Linked DNA regions of Homo sapiens: regions 2 and 3 are each linked to region 1. The links come from fine-mapping of genetic effects on gene expression. A gene starts in region 1. Each other region holds a variant in brackets. All regions are shown on one strand. Distances are from middle to middle.

What was found.
Region 2: its variant is fine-mapped to the expression of MED14OS in whole blood (TOPMed, PIP above 0.99).
Region 3: its variant is fine-mapped to the expression of MED14OS in sigmoid colon (GTEx, PIP 0.99).

Annotation. Positions count from the first base shown.
Region 1 is chrX:40,734,481-40,737,330 of GRCh38, reverse strand. MED14OS (MED14 opposite strand) reads right to left here and starts at 1,641. Exons shown (of 2, transcript NR_169211.1): 1 at 1,541-1,641. MED14 (mediator complex subunit 14) reads left to right here and starts at 1,789. Exons shown (of 31, transcript NM_004229.4): 1 at 1,789-2,133. The coding sequence starts at 1,919. RefSeq lists enhancers at 577-1,497, 1,498-2,419 and silencers at 1,452-1,541, 1,802-2,181.
Region 2 is chrX:40,674,956-40,677,455 of GRCh38, reverse strand. MED14 (mediator complex subunit 14) reads left to right here. Exons shown (of 31, transcript NM_004229.4): 22 at 2,095-2,235. Among named protein-coding and RNA genes, the nearest start is that of CXorf38, 29 kb to the right of the region's middle. RefSeq lists a silencer at 1,199-1,350. The variant T/C (reference allele first, on the strand shown) is at 1,447.
Region 3 is chrX:41,034,145-41,036,994 of GRCh38, reverse strand. No RefSeq gene overlaps it. Among named protein-coding and RNA genes, the nearest start is that of USP9X, 50 kb to the left of the region's middle. The variant A/G (reference allele first, on the strand shown) is at 1,397.

The DNA of each region.
Region 1 (2,850 bases):
GTTACCACCAGAGGCCGGGTAGGACAGTGGGTGGAGAAAGGGGAAATATTAGTCAAAGGGTACAAAGTTTCAGTTAGATAGGCGGAATAAGTTCTGGTGATCTATTGCACAGCAATGTGACTACAATTAGCAATAACCTTTTGTATCTTCCAAAGTTGCTAAAAGTGGATTTTAAATGTTCTCACCAAAAGAAGTAAGTATGTATATCATTTGATAGATGTTAATAGCCTGATTTGCTCATTCCACAATGGTTACATGTTTCAAAACATCACATTGTATGCCATAAGTATATACTATCAATTAAAAATAAAAATAATATTTAAAAATAAGGTAGCTGCCTTCCAGCAACTGTATCTGTAAGGGGTATAAATAATCCCAATGCATTTTAATAACTAGCACAATGATATTCTGTTTCAATGTGCTTTAGGACCACCAAGGGAGGGAACAAGTGAGCTTACACCTTCAGAAGCAGATGAACCGCTTTCAACAATGATAAAGAATTACCCAAGTGATGACAGTAAGAATATTCTAACCTTAGGGAACATCATGAACATCTCTTACACCAAGAGGAGATGAAACTGCAAAAAGATGTTTGAAAGGGGTCGCAGCAACGAATGCTTCTAATAGTGAATCTCTACGTTAGGGCATGTTAGAATCACCTTAGGAAAGTTCAAAAATTCCCCAAGCCCAGACCTCAAGCCAGACCAATTAAATCTGAATCTACAGGGGTGGAACCCATATATCTAAGTATTTTTTTAAAAAACAGCTCCTCAGATAATTGCAAAGTGCAGCCAAGGTTGAGAATCGCTGTTTTAAAGCAGGTACAAAAAATTAAACGTGGACTTTGATGGGGGGGACGGGAGTGTCGGTAGGCATGGATGAACTGAAAAGCCCTTCAGAATAGAGCGGTGACTGCAAGAGCAAGGACAAAAACTATATGAGAGCCCGTGGCAGGGGATTTAAGGGCCGTTTTTGTGTGGGACTGACAGGATTTGGGGGATGGTGACGACCTCAGCATACACCCGACTCTATTAAAATTGAGTTACTCTGCCAGCGGCCCTGTCTCTACCCGCAATCATATTTTCTAGCACCTTTTCCCACAGTTTGGAAAAAAAAAAAAAGGGGCGAAAACGTTCTCCCACGTAACGCGCCGTGGACGTGTATGGGAGGAGCAAAGGCCTGAGAATCACAAGCGCGCGGCCGCTCCCATTTCTTCGCGATTCCAGAACCAGAATTCACGAACATTTAGAGGAGGCCTCCCCTGGCTGTGTTTGTGCCCCACTTAGGAAGCGATGGTGGATTTCTCTGGGCAAATTGTCGCCTTTACAACGCCAGGGGGCGGAGGCGGGAGGGAGAGCGGCGAGGGTAAGGGCGGGGCAACTGCTGACGTTCCCGGTGACGACTCCGGCTCAGCCCTCACCCTGGTTTCCGGCGGCGCGCGGCTCCCTTTTCCGCTCTCCCGCGCGCTCACAGGTACCGCCTCACTCCCACGCGCCCCCCAGCGCTGCGGTGCTAGACAGCTGAGAGAACAGACACAGACCTGTCGGAAGGTCCTCTGCAGGTCCCCCTTCCGCTCTGCCGATCGACTTCCGCCTCGGGCAGTCAACATGTACGTTGCGGCTGTCTGGCGAAGCTGCTTCTGAGCGTTTGCGGAGGCGCAGCTTCCCCTCTGCGGGGCCGCCCTGCTTCCCCCCCATCCCCGCCTCCCCCCGCCCCTCGCTCCTGTCCCTGGGGTCGGCGGACTTCTCGCTACATGGGGGCGGGCTTCCGCGGTCGGCGCACGGCTTCCTGTTCTGAGGCGGCCCGGCGGTAGGCGGTGGCGACTCTGCCCGCTCCCGTTTCGGCGCGGTGACCGAGCGCCCGGGAGGCTCGAGGACCGCATCGTGTGCCGTTGCGCCAAGCCCGGTCCTGCGCCGCCATGGCCCCAGTGCAGCTGGAGAACCACCAGCTGGTCCCGCCCGGAGGCGGCGGCGGGGGCAGCGGCGGACCCCCGTCAGCCCCAGCCCCTCCTCCCCCGGGAGCCGCCGTGGCGGCGGCCGCTGCAGCTGCGGCTAGCCCGGGCTACCGGCTGAGCACCCTCATTGAATTTCTGCTGCACCGGGCCTACTCGGAGCTTATGGTGTTGACGGACCTGTAAGTGCCCCGAAACCCCTGCCTGTTCCCCAGCCCCCCTTCCCGCCCAACCGGCTGAGACGTTTGCACCTCCCTCTCCCCGAGAGGCTGCTGTGTTCTCCGCTGGACTGCTTAGTCTAGAATTTTTGAACTCCTGGGGTTCAGCAGAGGTGGAGAAGAAGCTTTGTATCTGGGGTCTTCCTGGCAACGATGCAACAGAGACTTGTTAATTTTGCGTGTTGTTACACTTCCACTGAAAATTGTGTGAAATTTTTGTCCGAGTTCCCAACAGAACTCTCTTGATTTCTTGGCTGGAATACATAATATTCGAGCTTTTAGAAAAAACTCTATAGATGGGAAATTTGTATTACAGCCTCTTGACGATACGTTTTAAATGTAAGCTGTTATTGCTTCTAAGTTAATGCAGGAGCTACATACGTTGTGTATAAAATACAAATTTGAATTCAAAGTACTTTTTTTCTGGAACTTTTGAGTGTTTGAGGTCTTAATGAAGTTAGTGTGAGTAAAATTTTTTTGTAAGTAGTCTGTTATTTCTTGGAGTATGAAGGGGGTTTATAAATCACCTAGTTACCCATGAAATGCCTTGGGGCATGATTAAGTTGTTAATCCCTTCAGAATAGGATCAGAATATACTAACGAATTTCAGTGTGTGAAGAAAAGGCACCGTAACATTTTGGGACTCTGTTGTACATCTTATAACCCAGGTTCAGAAAAAGT
Region 2 (2,500 bases), 60 kb after region 1:
GGTGTGGTATTGATTTCTTTTATATTAGTGTCTTTCCTCAAATGTTAAGCGATTCTTAACTCTCTGCTCTTATTTAAAGGTAAGACTTATTGACTGTGGTCTTCATTGCAGGATGATCTCCTTGGGCCATTTCTTTGGGAAACTCCCGATATCAGTAGCTTTAGGTCTTTTTGTTGGGCTGGTGTGAGTACCAAGACAGGAGTATCCAAATCTTCTGCATAGATGGTATGCATCTTGCTTTCAATATTGGGAAAGTCAAATGAAAAAACGAGTATTCTCAAATTTATGTAGACTTTGATCCCCATTTTTTATATAGTAGTCCTTCTCTGAGTTGGTCTTTGGCATCCCTCAAGTCAGAGATCCTCCTCCATGGTGGAAGAGATAACCGAGCTCAGTGAGAATAGCAGAGGATCTGGGAGGGTCTAAGTGTCTCTTAGACTTTCACTTAGTCCTTCTGTTATTAGTCCCACTTTTATCCCCACTTCCAAAGGTACCCATATTAGTCTGTTTTCACATTGCTGTAAAGATACTACCCAAGACTGGGTAATTTATAAAGGAAAGAGGTTTAATTGACTCACAGTTCCACGAGCTTAACAGAAAGAACGGCTAGGAGGCCTCAGGAAATTTACAATCGTGGTGGAAGGTAAAGGGGAAGCAAGCACGCCTTACATGGCTGCAGGGGAGAAGCGTGAGAGCAGGGGAAACTGCTACTTATAAAACCATCAGATCTGGTGAGAACTCACTATCACAACAGCATGGGGGGAACTGTCCCCATAATCCAATCAATCGGTCCCTCTCTCAACACGGGGATTACAATTCGATTACAATTCAAGATGAGATTCGGGTGGGGACACAGAGCCAAACCATATCAGTGCCTGATACTGCCAGTTCCAAAGTATCTCAGGGATCTGGATGGAAATAGCTTGCTTCTTGGCTTTTCCCACAGCTTACTTAGGATACAACTTTCTCACATTGGATGGTTCTAGTTGCTACTCAGCCATCTGCTTTGCAGCCTCCCGGATGTATTGCTGTTTCTTCTCTTCTCCTATTCTTTTTGTCTTTGTTACTTATTGCTTCAAAAAATTCTTTCCAGTAGTTTAGTGGGGAAAGAATGCAATGTGTGTTGTGAGCCCATCATCTTTAATTAAAAGTAGACTGTAGACTTCTTTTTTGAGACAGGGTCTCACTCTGTCGCCCAGGCTGGAGCGCAGTGGTGGGATCACGGCTCACTGCAGCCTCAACTTCCCGGGCTCAAGCAGTCCTCCCATCTTAGCCTCCCTAGTAGCTGGATCCACAGGTGTGCACCACCATGCCTGGCTGATTTTTCTATTTTTTGTAGAGATGAGGTTTTGCCATTATTGCCCAGGTTGGTCTCGCAAGGGATCCTCCCATCTTGGCCTCCCAAAGTGCTGCGATTATAGGCATGAGCCACCATGCTCAGCCCAC[T/C]ATGGACTATTAATAGCTCTCTAGTGATTCTGATAAGCTTATGATTCAAATATGTGTATATTCGAATACTGGGGATGTGAGGAGTGTTAAAGAGAATCTGTGCTTGAAACACAAACTCTGATAGCTTTGCTCAGTTTTGACAATATGTAAAACAAGGCTGTCCCACTCTTAATGGTTCAAGATTAAATTATATAATATAAAAAAGGAAAAAATTGGATCGTTTCTTACTCAGTTTTCCTTTCATATTTTCTAGTTTAAAAAGTGAGATGGCTCACTAGCTGGGAAATTTTCCAAGTCATTGAAGTTATGGCCAATATGCTTTTCATTTTTTACCCCCATTTCTGGATTAGAAGTTAATAAGAAAATATTATGATCTGATGGTAAGAGGTGCCAGGATGTACTTCTTTCTTCAACTTTTTGCTCACACAATATTTCTTAGTCAATATGACTTTTTTTAGATGCTGTTTTTGTTAACTGTTTTCCTCAGTTTCCCGCTTCAAAATTAACAATATTTCTTCTAGGTTGTCCTAGTAACGATCTTCAAGGATCAACATACTGTGTTTCTGTTTAAATATTCTAAATAATTTAAAATATTTTACTAATAATGTTAGGTAAAATAATCTAAATTTTACCTGTTTATATCCGTAGACGTTCCTGAATATGTTTGTTGACAGCAATCAGGATGCTCGAAGAAGGTCTGTAAATGAGGACGATAATCCCCCTTCTCCTATAGGAGGAGATATGATGGATTCTTTAATATCGCAGCTCCAGCCACCACCCCAGCAACAGGTAATATCTAGCCAGAATTCCAAGTGGTATCACATTTCTGTAACTTCACAGGTTCTATAGGTGTCAAGACTTCATTGAAAGACAAGGAGGTCCTTGGTGGGCCTGAGATGCCCAGGAAATACTTATGAAATAAAGAGTTACAGAAGGAGGCGAGGAGACTTCCAGTGACAAGAAATGAATAGTGTTGGAAACAGCATTAATCTCAGGTCATTCACACACTTAAAATGATGTTATATGATTCCAGAGATGGAAATACCATCCGCAG
Region 3 (2,850 bases), 300 kb before region 1:
TGATGCCTCTGGGGTCTCTACTGAGTTCCCAATTTATTCAACAAAGTTTCTTTACTCAGCTTGGTAGAAACTTGGAAGATCGCTGGTCCTGTGTGAACTCTGGAAATTGTTTGAATACAACTTCCTGGTAGCTATTTCTGTAGAAATCGTTCTTTGCGGCCAGGCGCAATGGCTCACACCTGTAATCCCAGCACTGTGGGAGGCCAAGGTGGGCAGATCGCCTGTGGTCAGGAGTTTGAGACCAGCCTGGCCAACATGGTGAAACCCTGTCTCTACTAAAAATACAAAAAATTGGACGGGCGCGATGGCTCATGCCTATAATTCCAGCACTTTGGGAGGTCAAGGCAGGCGAATCACCTGAGGTCAGGAGTTCGAGACCAGCCTGACCAATGTGGAGAAAACCCATCTCTACTAAAAATACAAAATTAGCAGGGCATGGTGGTGCATGCCTATGGTCCCAGCTACTCAGGAGGCTGAGGCAGGAGAATCGCTTGAACCTGGGAAGCAGAGGTTGCAGTGAGCCGAGATTGTGCCAGTGCACTCCAGCCTGGGCAATAAGAGCGAAACTCTGTCTCAAAAAAAAAAAAACAAAAAACTAGCCAGGCATGGTGGTGGACACCTGTGATCTCAGCTACTCGGGAGGCTGAGGCAGGAGAATCACTTGAACCCGGGAGGCAGAGATTGCAGTGAGCAGAGATCGTGCCACTGTACCCCAGCCTGGGCGACAGAGCAAGACTCCATCTCAAAACAAAAAAAAAGGAAATCGTTCTTTGCCCAGCTACATAGAATTTATTCTGTATATGTGGGACTTAATGCAGATTCCTGAACTCCTAGAATTCTGCCTACTGTATTGGCCCACAAGTTTTATTTTGCAGCTTGGTGACCTTGGTGCAATTTCATAAGATAAAATTCTGTAAATGTTCTAAATTACCTAATCAATGACCTATCCAGTAATAAATTGATTTGTTTGTTTTGTAGTTTCATTTAGGTCTAACGTTTGAAGCATTTCTAGACCAGATTATACAGTATAATGAAAATATGAACACAAACAATCAGTATCACATTAGATCATTTTATTGGTGAAACTACCATGAATAATTCAGAATCTCCATTTCACCAAAGAGCACACTTTTACATGTGTTACTACTGTCCAGGTTGTTGGAATGGAACAGAGCTTGTATGTACACAGAGAGCCTACCTAGAGCTCACAGGTGTTCACGGGTGTGTCAAGAACATTTCTCAAAGCTTTTTAAACTTGCTAGCTTTTTAGCCTAAAGGATTCTGAAGCCTTTGTTGGCAAGGTAAAGATAAAGCCTTGTGGCAGAGATGGATTAATAATTGGCCATTTCTTAGCTGCAAGTATGAGGAAGTCAGATGGAATTACATATTATAAAAT[A/G]TATTATATACTAATAAAGGATTGTCTTAAAACATACAAGATAATTATACTTTTTGATGTACGTTATCTGCATGGATGACTCCTTTAGTCAATATGTTAGCAAAATTTAGCAATACTTTTTTTTTCTTTCTTTATTTTGTTTTTTTTAATTATACTTTAAGTTCTGGGGTACATGTGCAGAATGTGCAGGTTTGTTACATAGGTATACATGTGCCATGGTGGTTTGCTGCACCCATCAACCTGTCATCTACATTAAGTATTTCTCCTAATGCTATCCCTCCCTCTGTCCCCCACCCCTGACAGCCCCGGTGTGTGATGTTCCCCTCCCTGTGTCCATGTGTTCTCATTGTTCAACTCCCAGTTATGAGTGAGAACATGTGGTGGTTGGTTTTCTGTTCTAGTGTTACTTTGCTGAAAATGATGGTTTCTAGCTTCATCCATGTCCCTGCAAAGGATATGAACTCATCCTTTTTTATGGCTGCATAGTATTCCATGGTGTATATGCGCCACATTTTCTTTATCCAGTCGATAACTTTTGTTTTGTTTTGAGACAGAGTCTTGCTCTGTTGCCCAGGCTGGAGTGCAGTGGCACAATCTCGGCTCACTGCAACCTTCGCCTCCTGGGTTCAAGTGATTCTTCTGCCTCAGCTTCCCAAGTAGCTGGGACTACAGGCATGCACTACCATGCCCAGCTAATTTTTGTAATTTTAGTAGAGATGGGGTTTCACCACATTGGCCAGGCTGGTCTCAAACTCCTTACCTCAAGATCCGCCTGCCTTGGCCTCCCAAGGTGCTGGGAATACAGGCGTGGGCTACTGCACCTGGCCTTTTCTTTCTTTTTTTTTTTTTTTTTAAACAAACAGGGTCTCACTCTGTTGCCTAAGGCTGGAGTGCAGTGGCATGATCATAGCTCACTGTAGCCCAGAACTCCCGGGCGGAAGTGATCCTCCCACCAAAGCCTCTTGAGTAGTTCGGACTACAGGCACATACCCCCATGCCTAGCTTATTTATTTTATTTTTTGTAGAGATGGGGTCTTACTCTTTTGCCCAGGCTGTTCTGGAACTGCTGGCCTCAAATGATCCTCCTTTCTCAGCCTCCCAGAGTGCTGGGATTATAGGTGTGAGCCACCATGTCCGGCAAATTTTAGTAAGTTTAAAGATTTTTGCTCTGCCTATGTGATAGCACCATAACTTTGACACTTATTTTTAGGGAAAGGAATTATAGGTTACTGTTTTTAATCATGTAATAGATAGAGTAAGTACCTGGCAAGACACATAATTTTAAGGGTAAGGACAGTTGCTGATTTATTTGCATTTCTTAGTCCAAATTTTTCAAATGCATAAAGGTGCCACTGTGAAAAATGCAGAAAAGGTACCGAGGAACATTTTAACAGAACCGTTGCCAATGAAATTGTAGCTTTGCATTAAATTATTAAAAATTCAGCCAGAAAAAT